Regions from separate parts of the Homo sapiens genome. Here region 1 is linked to region 2. The links come from fine-mapping of genetic effects on gene expression. A gene starts in region 2. The other region holds a variant in brackets. All regions are shown on one strand. Distances are between the middles of the regions. Region 1 overlaps PPIL2 (peptidylprolyl isomerase like 2). Region 2 holds the start of PPIL2 (peptidylprolyl isomerase like 2).

Region 1 (2,901 bases), 26 kb before region 2:
GGCCAGGAGTTGGAGACCAGCCTGGCCAACATGGTAAAACCCTGTCCCTATTAAAAATACAAAAATTAGCTGGGCGTGGTGGCGTGTGCCTGTAGTCCCAACTACTTAGGAGGCCAAGGCAGGAGAATCGCTTTAACCTGGGAGGCAGAGGTTGCAGTAAGCTGAGATCACACCACTGCACTCCAGCCTGGGCGACAGAGTCTGTCTCAAGAAAAAAGAAAAAGAAAAAAGGAAATGGGGTGGAATTAAAACAGCCAACAGCACTGCCATGAGACGAGGAGAGAGTTTCTGCCAGCCTGGTCTGGGAGGAAGGCAGAGACTACCTCATAACTTTGGACTTTTTTTTTTTTTTTTGAGATGGAATCTTGCTCTGTCCCCCAGGCTGGAGTGCAGTGGCGCGATGTCGGTTCACTGCAAGCTCCGCCTCCCAGGTTCATGTCATAGTCCTGCCTCAGCCTCCTGAGTAGCTGGGACTACAGGCGCCCGCCATCACGCCCAGCTAATTTTTTTGCATTTTTAGTAGAGACGGGGTTTCACTGTGTTAGCCAGGATGGTCTCAATCTCTTGACCTTGTGATCCACCTGCCTTGGCCTCCCAAAGTGCTGGGATTACAGGCGTGAGCCACTGCACCTGGCCAACTTTGGACTTTAAATAGATGTCCTTCTTAACCTTAGACCAGAAGTAAAACATCTAATTTCCAAACCAGCAGAAAGAGAAGAGAAGCAAATGAAAATAAATATAAAAAATGGTAACTAGAAAGCAACAAGATCATAGAACGCAACAGACCACCTGAAGAATTAAGTCCACATTTAAGATTGTCAGGATTGGCCAGGCACAGTGGCTCACGCCTGTAATCCCAGCACTTTGGGAGGCCAAGGTGGGCGGATCACAAGGTCAGGAGATCGAGACCATCCTCGCTAACACGGTGAAACCCCATCTCTACTAAAAATACAAAAAATTAGCCAGGCGTGTGGCGGGCGCCTGTAGTCCCAGCTACTAGGGAGGCTGAGGCAGGAGAATGGCATGAACCTGGGAGGCGGAGCTTGCAGTGAGCCGAGATCGCGCCGCTGCACTCCAGCCTGGGGGACGGAGCGAGACTCCGTCTCAAAGAAAAAAAAAAAAAAGACTGTCAGGATGAAGGAGAACACGACAGACCCCAGCTGTGAGCCTTCAAAAAGCCCTCAGAGGGCAGAGCCAGAGAGGCTGAAAA[GAAAAC/C]GATGGAAGACATGGGGTGGGTCCCGGCGCTGGCGGCACGGAGCACTCCCCAGGGTGGTGCAGGCAGGCACAGCCCACAACCCGGCTGGTGAGACACAGGACTTAACCTCCACTGCATCAAACATGCACCCCCCAGCCACGCAGGGACACGCTCCTGAGCCCACCAAGTCTGACCACACCCGAGGCCACCAGACAAGTGTCCGCAGATGTGACATCTGCAACGGTGCAGACCTGAGCTCTGACCTGCAAGCAGTTCCCTCTCTTGCTGATTTCTAACACAGTGAAGGAAACTAGAAGCAGAATTAAACTCAGATAAGAGGAAAGTAAAAGAACCATCCTGAGGCAAGCTCCTCCTAGAAAATCTTTTTTTTTTTTTGGAGACGGAGTCTCGCTCTGTCACCCAGGCTGGAGGGCTGGAGTGCAGTGGCGCGATCTCGGCTCAATGCAAGCTCTGCCTCCTGGGTTCACGCCATTCTCCTGCCTCAGCCTCCTGAGTAGCTGGGACTACAGGCGCCTGCCACCATGCCCGGCTAGTTTTCTGTATTTTTAGTAGAGATGGGGTTTCACCGTGTTAGCGAGGATGGTCTCGATCTCCTGACCTCGTGATCCGCCTGCCTCGGCCTCCCAAAGTGCTGGGATTATAGGCATGAGCCACCGCGCCTGGCCTCCTCCTGGAAAATCTTTAATTACAAGAATCACAAAAGGGAAAACAAAGCTGTAACAAATTAAAGTCTAATGATCTTTGAATACGGTAAAATAGGCAAACCTTTGGCAACAGTTGTCCAAGAAAGCACAAAATACTACTAGAAATAAGAAAAGAAGGCCGAGTGTGGTGGCTCATGCCTGTAATCTCGGCACTTTGGGAGGCTGAGGTGGGTGGATCACCTGAGGTCAGGAGTTGGAGACCAGCCTGGCCAACATGGTGAAACCCTGTCTCTACTAAAGTACAAAAAATTATCCTGGTGTGGTGGTGGGCGTCTGTAATCCCAGGAGAACCGCTTGAACCCAGGAGGCAGAGGTTGCAGTGAGCCGAGATCCCGCCATTGCACTCCGGCCTGGGTGACAAGAGTGAAACTCCATCTCAAAAAAAAAAAAAAAAAAAAAAAAGAGAAGGTGGCAACTGATCTGTCAGCAGTTTCACAGGCTGGTTAAGCCAAAGAGAAATAAAAAATAATAAAATGATTCCCTGCCCTGGCCCCTGCCAAACAACAAAAACAAACCACGCACCCAACCTACTTGAAAATAACCAACAGTCCTAGGCAATCCTTGGCTGAGAAGAAATTGAAAGGGAAGCTACCAACAACCAGCAAGCAGTGAAGAGGGAACATGCACCCTCAAAATGACAGACGTGGCTATCAGAAACACACATGGATTAAAGTGAGGAAGGAGGAAAAGCACCATGAAGAAGCAAAGACAGAAACTGAAAACAATTACAAACCCTTCAAAGTGAAGTGAAAACAGACAAACCCTTCAAAGACCACTAAGGGACTGAGGAATGGAAAGTGTGATTAGGCATGAGAAAAAAAGGTCAGCACAGCGAGGCCAAGAGAATACCAGCCTTCATGGAAACAAGTGCCCGTTAACCCTGAAATGAAAGCCCCAAGGAAGTGGCACGAATAGCTGCCAGCTGCCTTTGCCCAGCTGTTAAGCACAGCTGACTCGTTTGATTTTTTTTTTTTTTTCCAG
Region 2 (2,901 bases):
GCATGGTGGCGTATGCCTGTAATCCCAGCTACTCGGGAGGCTGAGGCAGGAAAATCTCTTGAAGCCGGGAAGCGGAGGTTGCGGTGAGCCAAGATCTCACCATTGCACTCTAGCTTGGGCAACAAGAGCGAAACTGCGTCTCAAAAAAAAAAAAAAAAAAAAATGAGGACTGAGGATTGAATACTATATTTAGCAACAAGAAGTCGCTGGGAACCTGAAAAGAGAGGCCGCTGAAGTCGAGAGAAAACAAAGAGCAGGTGAAATCCCAGATACCAAAGGAGGGCTTCAGAAAGAGGGAGTGGTCAACGGTGTGACATACTGTTGAGAAGCCCAACAGTTCTGGGGTCGAAATTCTGACTTGAGTGGTTTCAAGAGACTCAGAAAACAGCATGAAGCCACTAGTCTCTCACTTGTTCTTAAGAGAAACAACACGGCGGCAGCGGGAGGGGAACGTGGGACGTGGGGCACGGGGCACGGGTGGATTTTTAAATTTTATTTATTATTTTTGAGACAGCGTCTCGCTCTGTCGCCCAGGCTGGAGTGCAGTGACACGATCTCGGCTCACCGCAACCTCCGCCTCCCGGGTTCAAGCGATTCCCCTGCCTCAGCCTCCCAAATAGCTAGGATTACAGGCGCCCGTCACCACGCCCCGCTAATTTTTGTATTTTTAGTAGAGACGGGGTTTCACCGTATTAGCCAGGCTGGTCTTGAACTCCTGACCTCAGGTGATCCGCCCGCCTCGGCCTCCCAAAGTGCTGTGATTACAGGTGAGCCACTGCGCCCGACCTGGTTTGCTTTAAATTAGAAGGCTCTGCAGCACGTTTGCAGGCTGATAGGCATGAACCAGAACACAGCGAGACGTGAAGTACGGAAGAGGTAGAGACTACTCATTCAAGGGCGAAACTCGCGAACAGACGGGGGACGGTCCGGGCAGAACCAGAGTAAGGAAAACCGGGCTGCGCTCGAGCCCGCAGCTGACGTCATCGGAGCCGCGGCCCCGGGAGAGCGCGGCGGCCCGAGGGTCATTACCCTGACTGGAGACAGGGCGGCAGCTTCCGGGAGGAAGTGACCTTTGGGCTGTGCTCTGGGGAGTAGCTGAGAGGGAAGGCGAGCGGCGCGCAGTGCGGGACAGGCGGTTCACTGAGGCAGAGTGGAGCGCCGCTCCCGACTGCGGCTCAACTTACATTTTGTCCTTTTGGTGCTGTCGCTTCCCCATGGCGGAGCGGCGGCGGCGACTAGCGAGCACGAAAAAACAACGGCTGACAACTCAGACCATGGAGCCGCAGCCGAGTTCCGTGACCACTTCCGGGTTCCGCGGCGCGCCCCGGAAACGGGCGCCTGGCGTGCTGGGAATTGTGGTTCGCTAGCGCCAGGTGCTCATGCTCGGAAGGATCGCCTGCCCAGTATGGGGTCCTAGCTAGGTGTGCCATCTCCCGCAGGCGTCTTTTCGGGGCCGAGCTCCCTCAGCCTCGAAGCCCCATCTTCTTGAGGGGTCTGTCTGGACCGCCTTGTCTACCCCCCTAGCCACGGCTCAGGGCCATTCCCATACTGGGTTCTCAGGTCTTATTTATTTATTTTCGAGACAGGGTCTCGCTCTGTCGCCCAGGTTGGAGTGCAGTGGCACAATCACAGCTCACTACTGCCTCGACCTCCCAGGCTCAAGCGATTCTCCCACCTCAGCCTCCCGAGTAGCTACGGGCACGCACCACCACACCCGGCTAATTTGTTAATTTTTTGTAGAGACAGGCTCTTACAATGTTGCCCAGGCTGGTCTGGAGCTCTTGAGCTCAAGCAGTCCTCCCGCCTTGGCCTCCCAAAGTGCTGGGATTACAGGCCTGAGGCTTCGCGCCCGGCCAGCGCTCAGGTCTTTTTCAACGTCCTCCTAGAGCTTCAAGTCTCATGAGCCTCCACCCCATCCCTTCCCGCCTCCGTGGCAGATGCCTTCAAAGCCATGTACCACTCTCGTTCTACTCGCTCACTTCTCATTCTCTCTGCATATTCGGTCCCCACCGCCTCCAGGCCCCTCGGAGGCCCAGCAGCAGGTGGCCATCAAGCCTAGAGGTCCAAAGCCCTACCTGATCCCTTCCGTCTCTTCTGCCAGACCCTTCCCTTGGGTCAGATCAGTACCTTGGGCCCCTAGCTACACTCAGGCCCAGGGTAATCTTGCCTAGGCTCCTAATTTTAAATGCCATTTGTATCCCATGACTCCCAGTACTAAGTCACCAGCACTCCAGGTTCCTGATCTCCACTTGGGTAACCACTGATCTGAAATGTAACATGTCTGGATGGGCGTGGTGGCTCACGCCTGTAATCCCAGCACTTTGTGTGTGTGTGTGTGTGTGTGTGTGTGTGTGTGTTTAGTAGAGACGGGGTTTCACCATGTTAGCCAGGATGGTCTCGATCTCCTGACCTCCTGATTCGCCTGCCTTGGCCTTCCAAAGTTCCGGGATTACAGGCGTGAGCCACCACGCCCGGCCAATCCCAGCACTTTGAGAGGCTGAGGCAGGCGGATCACTTGAGGTCAGGAGTTCAAGACTAACCTGGCCAACATGGCAAAACCCCATCTCTACTAAAAATACAAAAAATTAGCCTGGTGTGGTGGCACACACCTGTAATTCCAGCTACTTGGGAGGCCGAGACAGTAGCTTGAACTGGGGAGGCAGAGGTTGCCGTGAGCCAAGATTAGGCCACTGCATCCCAGCCTGGGTGACAGAGTGACTCTGCCTAAAAAAATTAAATTAACATGTCTGGTCAAAGTAGAATTTTCTTTTTTTTTTTCTTTTTTTTTTTGACATGGAGTTTTGCTCTTGTTGCCCAGGCTGGAGTGCAATGGTGTGATCTTGGCTCACTGCAACCTCCGCCTCCCAGGTTCAAGCGATTCTCCTGCCTCAGTCTCCCAGG

What was found. PIP is the estimated chance that this variant, and not a neighbour inherited with it, causes the effect. A credible set is the group of variants that fine-mapping cannot tell apart.
Region 1: its variant is the best candidate, but not a certain one, in a credible set for the expression of PPIL2 in nasal epithelium (TOPMed, PIP 0.90).

What each region holds. Positions count from the first base shown.
Region 1 is chr22:21,690,379-21,693,279 of GRCh38, reverse strand. The region is part of intron 15 of PPIL2 (peptidylprolyl isomerase like 2); the gene reads right to left. Among named protein-coding and RNA genes, the nearest start is that of PPIL2, 26 kb to the right of the region's middle. RefSeq lists an enhancer at 2,862-2,901. The variant GAAAAC/C (reference allele first, on the strand shown) is at 1,211.
Region 2 is chr22:21,664,415-21,667,315 of GRCh38, reverse strand. PPIL2 (peptidylprolyl isomerase like 2) reads right to left here and starts at 1,304. Exons shown (of 20, transcript NM_014337.4): 1 at 1,185-1,304. The coding sequence starts at 1,216. RefSeq lists enhancers at 868-917, 988-1,227, 462-1,372.